Homo sapiens: one gene and its partners. The protein of the gene in region 2 interacts with the protein of the main gene of each other region in a pairwise test. Each region holds a gene or a part of one and is shown on either strand. Other genes may lie near its edges.

Region 1 (3,748 bases), on a different chromosome or scaffold from region 2:
CTGAGCCCTGGAGGAAGAGGAGGAGCTACTGGAAGGGGAGGACTGCATGAAGTGCCTTGCAGGCAGCAGGAATAGTATATGTAGGGCCAGAAATGGGAGGAAAGAGATGACCAGCCTTGCTGGGGTATGCATGGCTAGTGAGAGAGAAAGACTTCAGATAGGTAAGAAGAGGTGGAGTTTGTTGCTTTGCAACAATGTTTGGGATGTCACATTCATTTCTACGGGAAATAGGGAGCCACAGATGGCTCAACGCCATCCATTGAGAGTCACTTTACTAGTTCAGCTCTCTCAGGGCATCTTGATTTCCAAGTTGCCAGGAGTACTTCATTGGACCCTCCATGTACTGACAACAGATCCTTCTAACTGTAATTGCACTTTGAGGTTTTGAAGCAAAGACTCCATTTTTCTCACCCCTGTATCCCCAGGGCACACAACACAGGGCTTTGGCACTGAACTAAACTGATTTTTTTTTTTTAATGTGCAGATCCTGAGACTACCCTCCCAATCCTGAGTGATAACTCCCGCTTTGAAGACTCAAATCCAGGCTTTAGCACTTTTGTCTCTGTAACTTTGAACCAGTGACTGCCACCTGGAAGAACTTTGCCTTTTCTGTAGAATAGGTATAACTGTGGTACCTATTGTGGGAGGTCAGACTATGCTCCCCAAATATGAAGGATTGTTGAGCTGGAAACAATTAAGAAACCAGTACAGGAGAGCTCTCTGCCTGCCCTCTATTAGCCTAAAATCAGGGCACACATTTGAGGATTATTATTACTCCCCTACACCATCATAGAGGGCTTCCCATAGCACCCACTCAAGAATATTGTTATTATTACATCATATGGTTAAGATTACTGACAAGCAAAAGTCAAGTGGATCTGAAATAGAATCCAAGACAAGGGGCTGGGCGCGGTGGCTCACGCCTGTAATCCCAGCACTTTGGGAGGCCGAGGTGGGTGGATCATTTGAGGTCAGGAGTTCGAGACCAGCCTGACCAACATGGTGAAACCCTGTCTCTACTAAAAATACAAAAATTAGCTGGCTGTGGTGGCGGGCGCCTGTAATCCCAGCTACTCGGGAGGCTGACGCAGGATAATTGCTTGAACCAGGGAGGTGGAAGTTGCAGTGAGCCGAGATCACGGCCACTGCACTCCAACCTGGGTGGTGGCGCGCGCCTGTAATCCCATCCGCACGGGAGGCTGAGGCAGGAGAATCGCTTGAACCCAGGAGGCAGAGGTTGCAGTGAGCCGAGATAGCGCCACTGCCCTCCAGCCTGGGTGAGAGCAAGACTCCTTCCCAAAGGGGGAAAAAAAATCCAAGACAAGGGATCCTGAGCAAGCCCTCTCACTCTCCGAACCTGTTTCCCCATCTGTAATATGGGGAGAAAGTTCGCAGGGTAATTCGGAAAGGTCCAATGCGCACAGAAAGCGCTCAGCACGCGTGAGAATAGATACCATTTTTATTTGTTAATTTTAAACATTAATTACGTTTAAAAGAATCAGTGCTACTATTGTTGTCCCGGACTAGAGGCGGCTTGCGCTGCCGGCTCCAAGCACAGAGCCCAATTATGTCCTCCCTTTTGCGGCGCTGCCACCCGCGCAGCCCCCAGCCGATGCAGGGGAGGTGTGGCCCGCGGATGGGCGGAGCGATCTCAGGACTCGCCCCCAAGACCAGTAGGCGGGGCCAGGCGGGGCGCCCGGGCACTCTCGCACGCGCGCGCGCGGCGGCCCCAGGTACGCGGACAAGATGGCGGCGGCAGCAGTCGACAGCGCGATGGAGGTGGTGCCGGCGCTGGCGGAGGAGGCCGCGCCGGAGGTAGCGGGCCTCAGCTGCCTCGTCAACCTGCCGGGTGAGGTGCTGGAGTACATCCTGTGCTGCGGCTCGCTGACGGCCGCCGACATCGGCCGTGTCTCCAGCACCTGCCGGCGGCTGCGCGAGCTGTGCCAGAGCAGCGGGAAGGTGTGGAAGGAGCAGTTCCGGGTGAGGTGAGCCAGCGGCCCCGCGCCCCGGCTGCGCGCCCACCGCCCCGCGCCCCCCGGGGCCGGGCAGCCGCCCCGCTAGCTCCCCGCGGCCGCCCCGCGCGCGGACCCCACCCCGGACCCCTTCCCGCGGACAGACAGACAAAGGCCTCCAGGCCCCGGACCCTGCGGGGCCACGCCAGGCGGACCCCCGGGTCCCCAAATGGCGCATCTAGGAGCGCCTCGCAGCCGGGTCCTCCGTCAAGGGTGACGCTGGCGGCGGCGCGGCTCGTCCCTTTTGCGCGCTTCTTTTGTGCCCGACTTCGGGCTGAAATGTTTACATGGACCCAGTGATGCATCGATCGGGCGGGCGCAGCATCCCCGGGCTGGTTGTGGACGGCACAGATTTCAGCGTGGCCCCAGGATGAAATCTGGCCCTGCACACTCCCTCTGTGACCTTGGGGGGAGCGACTTCCCTTTTTTTGAGCCTCGTTCATAGACTTTGAGTGGTGGTGATCATTAGACCTACCTTTCACCGTGTTTATTAAATTAGATGATGTCCGGGAGGCACGCACGCAGGGCCCCGGCTCCTAGGAGGCGCTCAATCAGTGCTCACTGTCATTGTCATTATTATTATTGTTGTTGTTGTTACAACTGTCCCCATTTTAGAGATGGGGAATGGAGACATCATTCATGCCGCTACGCCAAGGTCACACCGGGAGTGAGTGAGTGAATGCTGGTGGGGTTTTGAACTAGGTCTCTCGCCGGGGTCCCTCTTACCACTGGACGCCACTGCTGTCCCTGTTTCCAAGGCTGCCTTGGATTCGTGGCCGCCTGCCTTTGAGTTTCTGTTAAGCTGAGGGGGTGTTTCTCTCCTCGTAGGTGGCCTTCCCTTATGAAACACTACAGCCCCACCGACTACGTCAATTGGTTGGAAGAGTATAAAGTTCGGCAAAAAGCTGGGTTAGAAGCGCGGAAGATTGTAGCCTCGTTCTCAAAGAGGTTCTTTTCAGAGCACGTAAGGATCTGTTGATGTGGCTCTAAGCTTTGGCTTGCTGGTGTATGTGTCTGGGTCTGCAGGCATGAGCTCATCCAGCTCTTTTCGTATCTCCCTTTTCAATGCTCTCACAATCCCTTACTCACTTAGATGGCTGCAAGAGTCATTGTGTCCTTTTCCTCCTATCCAACAACACGAAGCCATTTGTCTGTGCCAGCTTTACTTTTCTAAAGCCAGAGAGAGAGTGGGGGTGGAGGGAGCAGGGAGGGACCCACGCAGCACAATGTAGACGGAGTCCAGATCAGCATTATTTCTCAAATGGGTTCAACGGATTTTTTTTGCAACCCCTCCGTTATTTGGGGAATCATCAATGATTGAACACTGTAAATTTCTCCCGGTTGTTTTCCCAGAAGGGTTGACGAAATTAATGTGGTTCTTCTCTCTGGCTTTGCAGGTTCTACCCAGTAGTGAACTGCATTATTTGTTAAGGTAACAGAGGATTAAAAGCTACCTATAAATCAGAGTTATTACTCCCTGAAATGAATTGTCTTGCATTCATTATCCCTGAAAAGTTTTTGGGTTTTTTTTTTTTTTTAAGTATTGCAGAAATACATGGTGGGTTTTTTTTGTTTTGTTTTGTTTTGTTTTCTTTTTTTCTTTCCTCAAAATGTCTCATGGAAGTTTCTTTCTTTTTTCTTTTTTTGAGACAGAGTCTTGCTTTGTCTCCCCGGCTGGAGTGCAGTGGCGCAATCTCAGCTCACTGCAACCTCCTACTCCTGGGCTCGAGCAATTC
Region 2 (3,748 bases):
CCATTGATATGGAAAAATCCGCCAGTATTGGTCACTATAATAATTTATACATTGTCCCAAAGAAGTTATTATTGTTATAAAATGTTTATTTTTCATTTTTGCTATGTGTACTTATCCATTTAAGATGCATTCTCTAATTTGTTTTAAGAGAACAATTAAATACAATATTGTAACAACGAGACAACTTTTTTCTTCTGGAGAGCCCACAACCGTCCCACAGACATGATATTTTCTTCAAAGGACTGATATAATTATTCAATTAGATAACAAATGGCATATAGTATGTGTTCAGTAAAATTTAATCTCCTTCAATAATTAGTTAACATAAACTGTTAATTTATATCTGCTTTTACTTAGCATATGATTGAAAAAATAAAATCAGGAATGCAAGTCTAGGAACACAGAATAAACACTCAACCCATGACCTTTCTTTATTTTATTGTATTTATCCTTTTTTTTTTTTTTTTTTTTTTTGAGACAGAGTCTCGCTCTATTGGCCAGGCTGGAGTGCAGTGGTGTAATCTTGGTTCACTGCAACCTCTGCCTCCCGGGTTCAAGCGAATTCCTGCCTCAGCCTCCCAAGTAGTTGGGATTACAGTTGCCTGCGACCACACCCTGCTATTTTTTTTATTTTTAGTAGAGATGGGATCTCACCATGTTGGCCAGGCTGGTCTCGAACTCCTGACCTCAAGTGATTTGCCCACCTTGGCCTCCCAAAGTGTTTGCTGTGTTTTCCTAGGGCCTAAGGTTTTTGCTGCCACTGACAAGGGTCAGGAAGGAGGTATACTCTGATTTAGGGGCAATAAGTCCTAGGGTGAGAGCAGTAAAACTGGAGTCAGAAAAGCCAAATCCAGTCCTCAGCATTTATTACTAACTCTATGACCTCTTCGAATCATTTAAATTCTCTGTTCTTGTTTTCTCTTGTAAAACAGGAAAAGAAAAAAGATGCATTCTGCTTTGTTTGCAGGCATGAGCTAAACAAGCATGTTTAGTTCTTACGGGTATTTCTGTCATTTTCTCACTCTTTGACAAACCTATCTGATCTTTGACAAACCCACTCTCATTATTCCATAAGAAAGTGGTGTTAAAGGCTTATGTTTCTTCCAATTTGTGATTACCAAGAGGCACTTAAGAACTCCAGGATTTCCATTTGTATAAAATCTAGCACATTATCAGTAAAACATCTTGACATTTATTTTAAATAGATTATTTATCTGCTATGAACCATGTGACATGCTTCTTGTTATGTGATAGTAACTCCATTATTTAGACATTTTAAAATTCCATTCAAGAAACAGTTGTATCCATGGACCAGCCATTCAAAGAGTAATTTTTCTTTAATCATTGATCTTCCAAATTCAACTTTACTCCTCTCTCCTTTAAGTCACCTGAATTACATCGTCACATTGTTCAGTGTTTGTGTGAATGTGTATGCATGTGTGTATGTGGTGGTGGTGGAGGTCCCTTTCTTCAGTATTCCCTCATTTCCTACTTTGGGCCTTTTTGGAAATGTTATTAAAAATTTTGATTATAGAATGGTACTTCATATTCACAGCATGATGCATTCATCAACATAAATCTAGCCAAAGCATTTCATTTGTGGATTTATACACCTGAAGCATTAAAATAAGAAATGTTAATTTCTTGCAGACTACTACCAGATGATTTTAAATATCTGCTAAGCAGGAATGTCTGTTCCCATGTGGGGAATTTCCATAATAAAATCCTGGCACCCTCGCTGAAGAGTACAGTTTTATAGAAACAGAGAAAAACAACAGCAAGTATTTTCCCTGAGGACGGTTTTAGCTACAATTTCCCAATGCTGCTTAGTTATTTCTGTCTTATTTTATGCTTTTGTTTTGAAACATAATGCAATTTTACCTGGATGCACTCCCGGATAATCAGGAATGGCTCAGTGTGTTTTCTGGCTCTTGCAAATGCAAGACCTCCAGAAAATCAGAAGGCTCCACCGCCTTGTCCCTTCCCCCACTCACACCTCCAGCTGGGAGAAAAGGGTTAAGGATTATTGGAAAATAGAAGAGAAGGGAGGGAGCCCCAAGGAGGCCCACGAACGGGAGGCCGCGCCTCTGGGTGCAGCGGAGCTCGAGCGCTGTTGTGTGTTTGGAAGGAAGGATGCTGCTGCCAATTTGTGGGACCGCTGCTGCGAGGAGTGGGCGTGGCCTCGGCGGTGTGGATGCTTGTTAGGAAAGATGCTGAGTGCTTTTCAGTGAGGAGTCAGGGAGGTGTGTGTGAGAGAGAGAGAGAAAAGAGAGAGACAGAGACGGGGAGAGAGAGAGGGAGAGAGAAGAGAGGGAGGAGGGAAGAAGAAAAGACGGAGGGAGGTGAGGAGGAAGGGAGGGGGAGAGACAGAGACCTAGAGGGGCTGAAGACCCAGACAGAGCTGGCAGAGCTACTGAGAAGAGGACTGGAGCGCTCTGAGAGCCTCTCAAGATCTTTTGGGGGAGCCCAATAAATGTGAACATGGGATCTGTCACGGGAGCTGTCCTCAAGACGCTACTTCTGTTATCTACTCAAAATTGGAACAGAGTCGAAGCTGGGAATTCCTGTAAGTATACAGCAAATGATTTAAAACTTGCTGGGGGGCTCTCTGCAAAACTTTGATTCTGTTGGTTTGATGATGATTATTTGCAGCTGGGATTGCTGCAAAGCGTATTGCTGTAAACCAAGCATCACTTAAAAATCTTGCCAATGTGACCGGTTAACACTTGTCTCTCCTCTTGGTCTGGTCAAAATAGGCAAAGTGTCATTTCTCTTTTTGTCTACTCGCAGAATCTTACCCTCTGGTCTTTGAGTATTCATTGAGAATGCCCAAGTTCTAGTAAAACATGAAATTAGCATCTTATCGGGGGAATAGCCTGTGAATATCTTCATTTCTTCTTTTTTAAAGAACTACTGAATTTTATTGGAATTATGTCTAAGAGGAAAACAACTGGCAGACTTTACATTATGCTGCATTGGCTTAGATTTCTGAAGTTTGCAATTGGGCAGACCAGTAGCTGCCTGCATCTTTAAAATAATGCAGGCTAATAACTGAAATGTACTGCAGGCTTCAGGAGCACCAGCACTGGCTGAGGCGAGTCTCAGTATTAAGAGCTGTGCCCTCGCTGCTAAGAGAATGAGACTTAGCGCTCTCCGGAAAGAGGAGCCTCTTCCTACATTTCGCTTAAAGGAAAACCAGTCAGGTGGTCTTTCAAAAGTAGGATTCCTTTGTGGTTGAATGCTTAACTGCATAAATTTGTAATTGAATGTTCTGATGAAATAGAACCTATTTAGGGAAGATTGAAATCTTATTTATAATTTAGATATCATCCATAATAATTTGGCAGACTCCCTTCATCCACTCTTTATTAGAGATAGAAAAAGTTTTAAAAGTTATCTTTGGCTTAAATTCTCTAAATGGGAGAATTTTCCCCTCCTGATTAATGACAAACAAGCTTGGCAAATACAACTTTTTATTTTTTCTTGGATTTTAAAGGAAAAGCTCATTTGCTTTCCAAGAACTGGCTATGAGGCCTGTCCAGGAATTTATGTTGCTGCTGTATCATCAGGCTTAGATTTGGGGAACAGAGGCAGTAATCAGACATTTGCTATGGCATATCACTTGACTATGTTAAGAGTTCTGATATGTGAAAAACATGACAAACTCATGGGCACAAGTCAAATGTCCCCTCACAGTACCTGGCTCCCGTGATTTCGTGTTTCAGTTCAGAATGGGCTCATTTAATGT
Region 3 (3,748 bases), on a different chromosome or scaffold from region 2:
AGTTCACTTTCTGGGCCACAGTAAAGGCCACAGAAATTGGTAAAGTCATTTGTGAATTTGCAGGACAAAGGGAAGGCCACTGCTAACACTGGTCCCCAGGCTTCCTGACCATCTTAACGTGGCATTTGAGGACACTGAGGCCCCTGGGCCCCAAAAGATCAGAGGGTCTCAGCATAATTCCCACAGGTGACCTAAGAGCAAGGCCACAGAGAGACAAAGAACAGTGCGGTGGTTCTGGAATCGGATGGGCCTGGGTTTGAATCCTGGCTTCATCTGCCCTTTCTTTTTTTGTTTTTTTGAGACAGGGTCTCGCTCTGTCGCCCAGGTTGGAGTGCAGTGGCGCGATCTCAGCTCACTGCAACCTCCATCTCCTGAGTTCAAGCAATTCTTGTGCCTCAGCCTCCTGAGTAGCTGGGATTACAGGCATGCGCCACCACACTTAGCTAATTTTTGTATTTTTAGTAGGGGGGGGGTTTCCACCATGTTGGCCAGGCTGGTCTCGAACTCCTGGCCTCAAGTGATCTGCCCGCCTTAGCTTCCCAAAGTGCTGGTATTAAAGGTGTGAGCCACCGTGCCTGGCCTCCATCCGGCCTTTCCCAGCCTTGGTTTCCTCTTCCCATCCCGGCTTACCCTCCAGGGGGTCCTTGGCCAGGCCCAGCTGCCCAATGATGTACTGTGGAAGGTCAGTCTTAATGCCTTGGCCCTCCCGCGCATGGCCCTCAGCCGCCTCCAGCAGGTGGTAAAATTCCTCAGGGTCAAACTCCTAGGGGCACAGGAGGGCTGGTCACCCAGGGCTTGGTTCCACCTGCAGGCCTCTGCACATGCTGTTCCCTCTGCCTGGAGCACCCTTCCCAGCTCACCCACTGGGTCTCCACTCCCGCTGCCTCCTTAGGGAAGCCCACGCTAGCCCAATAGCACCCTGTGTTCCTCTCAAAGCCCTACACGATGGGAACTGTCACCTGTATCTTGGCAGGACTGTTGTGGTCCCAATCTCAGTTCTGCCTGGACCCCAAGCTGGCCGTAGAAAGAGAAACTTACCAGACACTCCAGCAGCCGAGCTGGCCGTGAGATGATGATCAGCAGTTTCCGGACAAGCTGGACGATGAAGCTGACCTCCTCACTGTCCGAACGCTCATGGGCCTGGGGGAGGTGGGTCGTGGCATCACCCACAGGTCCTCAGCACCGTCTGGCCTGGGGACCCCCCTCACTCCACGTCCCACTGCATGCAAAACCTCAACATGCGAAAAACCACGCACATCCTGCAGAAGCCGCTCCAGCTTCTCCTGCATCTCTAGGAAGTAGCGGGAGGTGACGAGGTTCTCGCCAGACTTGGCCAAGCAGTCTCGGGCCAGCTCGACGATCTGGTGGTGGATGAAGCCCAAGACGCCATCAGCCAGCGCCAGCCGGGCGCCGGGCGCGTAGGCCGTCAGGAACTCCTGCAGACGGCCCTCCATCTGTGCTGTGGCCTGGGTGGGGCGAGACGGGGCGACCTGGTCAGAGGGCGGGGCTGGAGTGACACACGCAGAATGGGGCAGGAGAGGCATGGTTGGGGAGAGAGGAGATGGGGCAATGGGGCGATCGGGTGGGAGGGCTGGTGCAGGAGGAACGACATCTTTCAACGGAAGGGGAAGGAAAGACAGAAATGAACAGACTGGCAAAGGGGACATAGCCAGGAAGACAGAGTTCCATGGAGGGACAGCAATGTGGAAAGAAGTGCAGGGGCTGGTCCAGCCGCCAGGCGCTGCCCACCTTGGGGAACCTCTCCCGGTACACGTGATTCATCATGACAATCTCATTGTCGAAGGTCCCCGTTGCACGGCCCGGGCTGAAAGGAAGACAGCTGGCTTGTGATATGGGACCTGAGACCAACCCCAGGGGAGGATGTTGGGGGATCTGAGCCAGGGTTGAGGGACAAGAATCAGAGGCTAGGCTCAGGCAGGGTCAGGGCTGGGGTGAAGGAGGAGCCACAACTTGGGCCTCCACACCAGCCCAGGGAGGGGCCGGGGCTGGGGCCAGAGGTCGCGGCCCACCTGAGACTGCGAGAGCGGGGTCGGAGGCGGGGTGACCGGCCGCCTTCCTCATCAAGCACATTCTCTGAGCTGCGGAAGTGCTTGGACAGGAAGTGCAGCTCGTCCGGCGTCGGCTGGAAGGGAAGCTGGTGGAGACGTTCCCGGGAGGATGAGCTTGACTGGTAGAGAGTGGTGGGGATCAGAGCCATGAGTTCACCGTCAGTGCTGTGGCCAGGAACCCAGCACCACCCCTCAAGGCCCAGGCTGCCTGCTGGCCATCAGAAGGTAACATCCTTTCTCCTGCCTAGCTCCTATGCATCCCTCAAAACCCTAGCTCTGATGCCCTCTCCTCCAGGAAGTCCTCTCTGCCTGTACCCCTGGGCAGCCCCAAGTCCCCCTCTGGTCAGGCCCTGACCCCATAGGCTGAGGATATCTGTATCTCCCCAACCAGGGACTATTTTGGGGCCAAGGCTGGGTCTTCTCAGGGGACCCTGCATTTCCCAGAATGGGGCGTGCATGGAGGAAGTAACTAGTATGTTTGCTGACTGCACAACTATCCAACACCTTGAAAAAAACACACAAAGATGTGTCCCCCCACAACCCGGCATCTGCCTGTCCACCTGCCAAGGTGGGGCTATGGGTACCGAGAGGGTGGAGCTGGGTGTGTTGGTTCCATAGCCGGAAGATGGGAGAGACGCGAGGGACCATCTTCTGCCGTCTGCCCTGGAGAGGGGAACAAGAACAGATGGAAGGAAGGCCTGGCCCCTGTGGTTTGTGGGGACTAAGAACAGACACTGTGGCCAGCATATTCTGGCCCTGTTGTAGGAAGGATCTCCTGAAAATAACCAAGAACAGAGACACAGGCTGACCAAGTCCACTGCATGCTCTCTCTCTTTAGGTACCTCTTCCAGGAAGCCCCCCCGTGAGTCCAGCTGCCACTGTGTCCCCTGTCAAAGCTTCAACCTCTGAGCTGTAGCTTCTGGGGCACACATTGACCACCCCCCACCAAACGGAGGACTCCCCAGGGGCTCAGGGCCAGCTGCCCATTTGCGACCATGCCCTCAGCCCGCAGCACAGAGCATACACACAGTGGGTGCTTAATGAATGTTGTTGTATGAATAAATAAATGAAATGCAAGCGTCTGGCACATGACAGGTGCTCAATCAGCTCTTGTTAAGTGAATGAATGAATGATTTCTTTAGTGAGTTAATGATTCTTAGGGCTATATCCCCCCATGACCCCCCACCCCCTGGGCTGGTTGAAATTACCTGTCCATGCGTGGGATGTGGCTGCAAGATGGCATGCATTTGCCGGGAATGGGAGCCAGAGGGGGAGACCACCACCAGACGGGCCAGGGGAGGGGAAAAGGTGAATGAAATGAATGAGGAGCCAGGTCTAGCCACCGAGCACGTGCCCCTGCCCAACCCTTGCCCGTGGTGCCCGCACTGTCTCCCAAAGCCGGCAATCACTCACCTCCGGGCAAAGGGGAAATTTAGGGCAGAGGCAGCCGAGAAATTCCGAGGACTATCCAAGGGGCTGCTGCCTGCTGAGGAGGAGGCGGGGAAACTGAGTCAGCGGGGCAGAGGCAGGACACAGCACCCGCTGGCTGCTCCCACACTCACCCGTTGGGACCGACAATGGCGACAGGGGCCGGGAGAGGGTCGGGGAGGGCGTTCCTACCACCAAGCTCTTGCGGTTCCCGCTGCGGCAGCTGTGGGGGGAAAAGGGGACAGGGTAGG

What was found.
Region 1: the proteins of CNTNAP4 (region 2) and FBXO21 interact in a two-hybrid assay, tested with the Homo sapiens proteins (one study listed by BioGRID and IntAct).
Region 3: the proteins of CNTNAP4 (region 2) and MAST3 interact in a two-hybrid assay, tested with the Homo sapiens proteins (one study listed by BioGRID and IntAct).

The regions. Positions count from the first base shown.
Region 1 is NC_000012.12:117,188,455-117,192,202, reverse strand, and holds the start of FBXO21 (F-box only protein 21), read left to right. Parts: upstream 1-1,732; 5' UTR 1,733-1,746; coding exon 1,747-1,985; intron 1,986-2,840; coding exon 2,841-2,976; intron 2,977-3,748. UniProt on the Homo sapiens protein: Substrate-recognition component of the SCF (SKP1-CUL1-F-box protein)-type E3 ubiquitin ligase complex.
Region 2 is NC_000016.10:76,275,182-76,278,929, forward strand, and holds the start of CNTNAP4 (contactin-associated protein-like 4 isoform 1 precursor), read left to right. Parts: upstream 1-2,219; 5' UTR 2,220-2,481; coding exon 2,482-2,566; intron 2,567-3,748. UniProt on the Homo sapiens protein: Presynaptic protein involved in both dopaminergic synaptic transmission and GABAergic system, thereby participating in the structural maturation of inhibitory interneuron synapses.
Region 3 is NC_000019.10:18,121,657-18,125,404, reverse strand, and holds part of MAST3 (microtubule-associated serine/threonine-protein kinase 3), read right to left. Parts: intron 3,721-3,748; coding exon 3,632-3,720; intron 3,556-3,631; coding exon of another isoform or gene 3,553-3,555; coding exon 3,483-3,552; intron 3,299-3,482; coding exon of another isoform or gene 3,278-3,298; intron 2,733-3,277; coding exon 2,654-2,732; intron 2,189-2,653; coding exon 2,031-2,188; intron 1,826-2,030; coding exon 1,750-1,825; intron 1,467-1,749; coding exon 1,257-1,466; intron 1,141-1,256; coding exon 1,039-1,140; intron 764-1,038; coding exon 631-763; intron 1-630.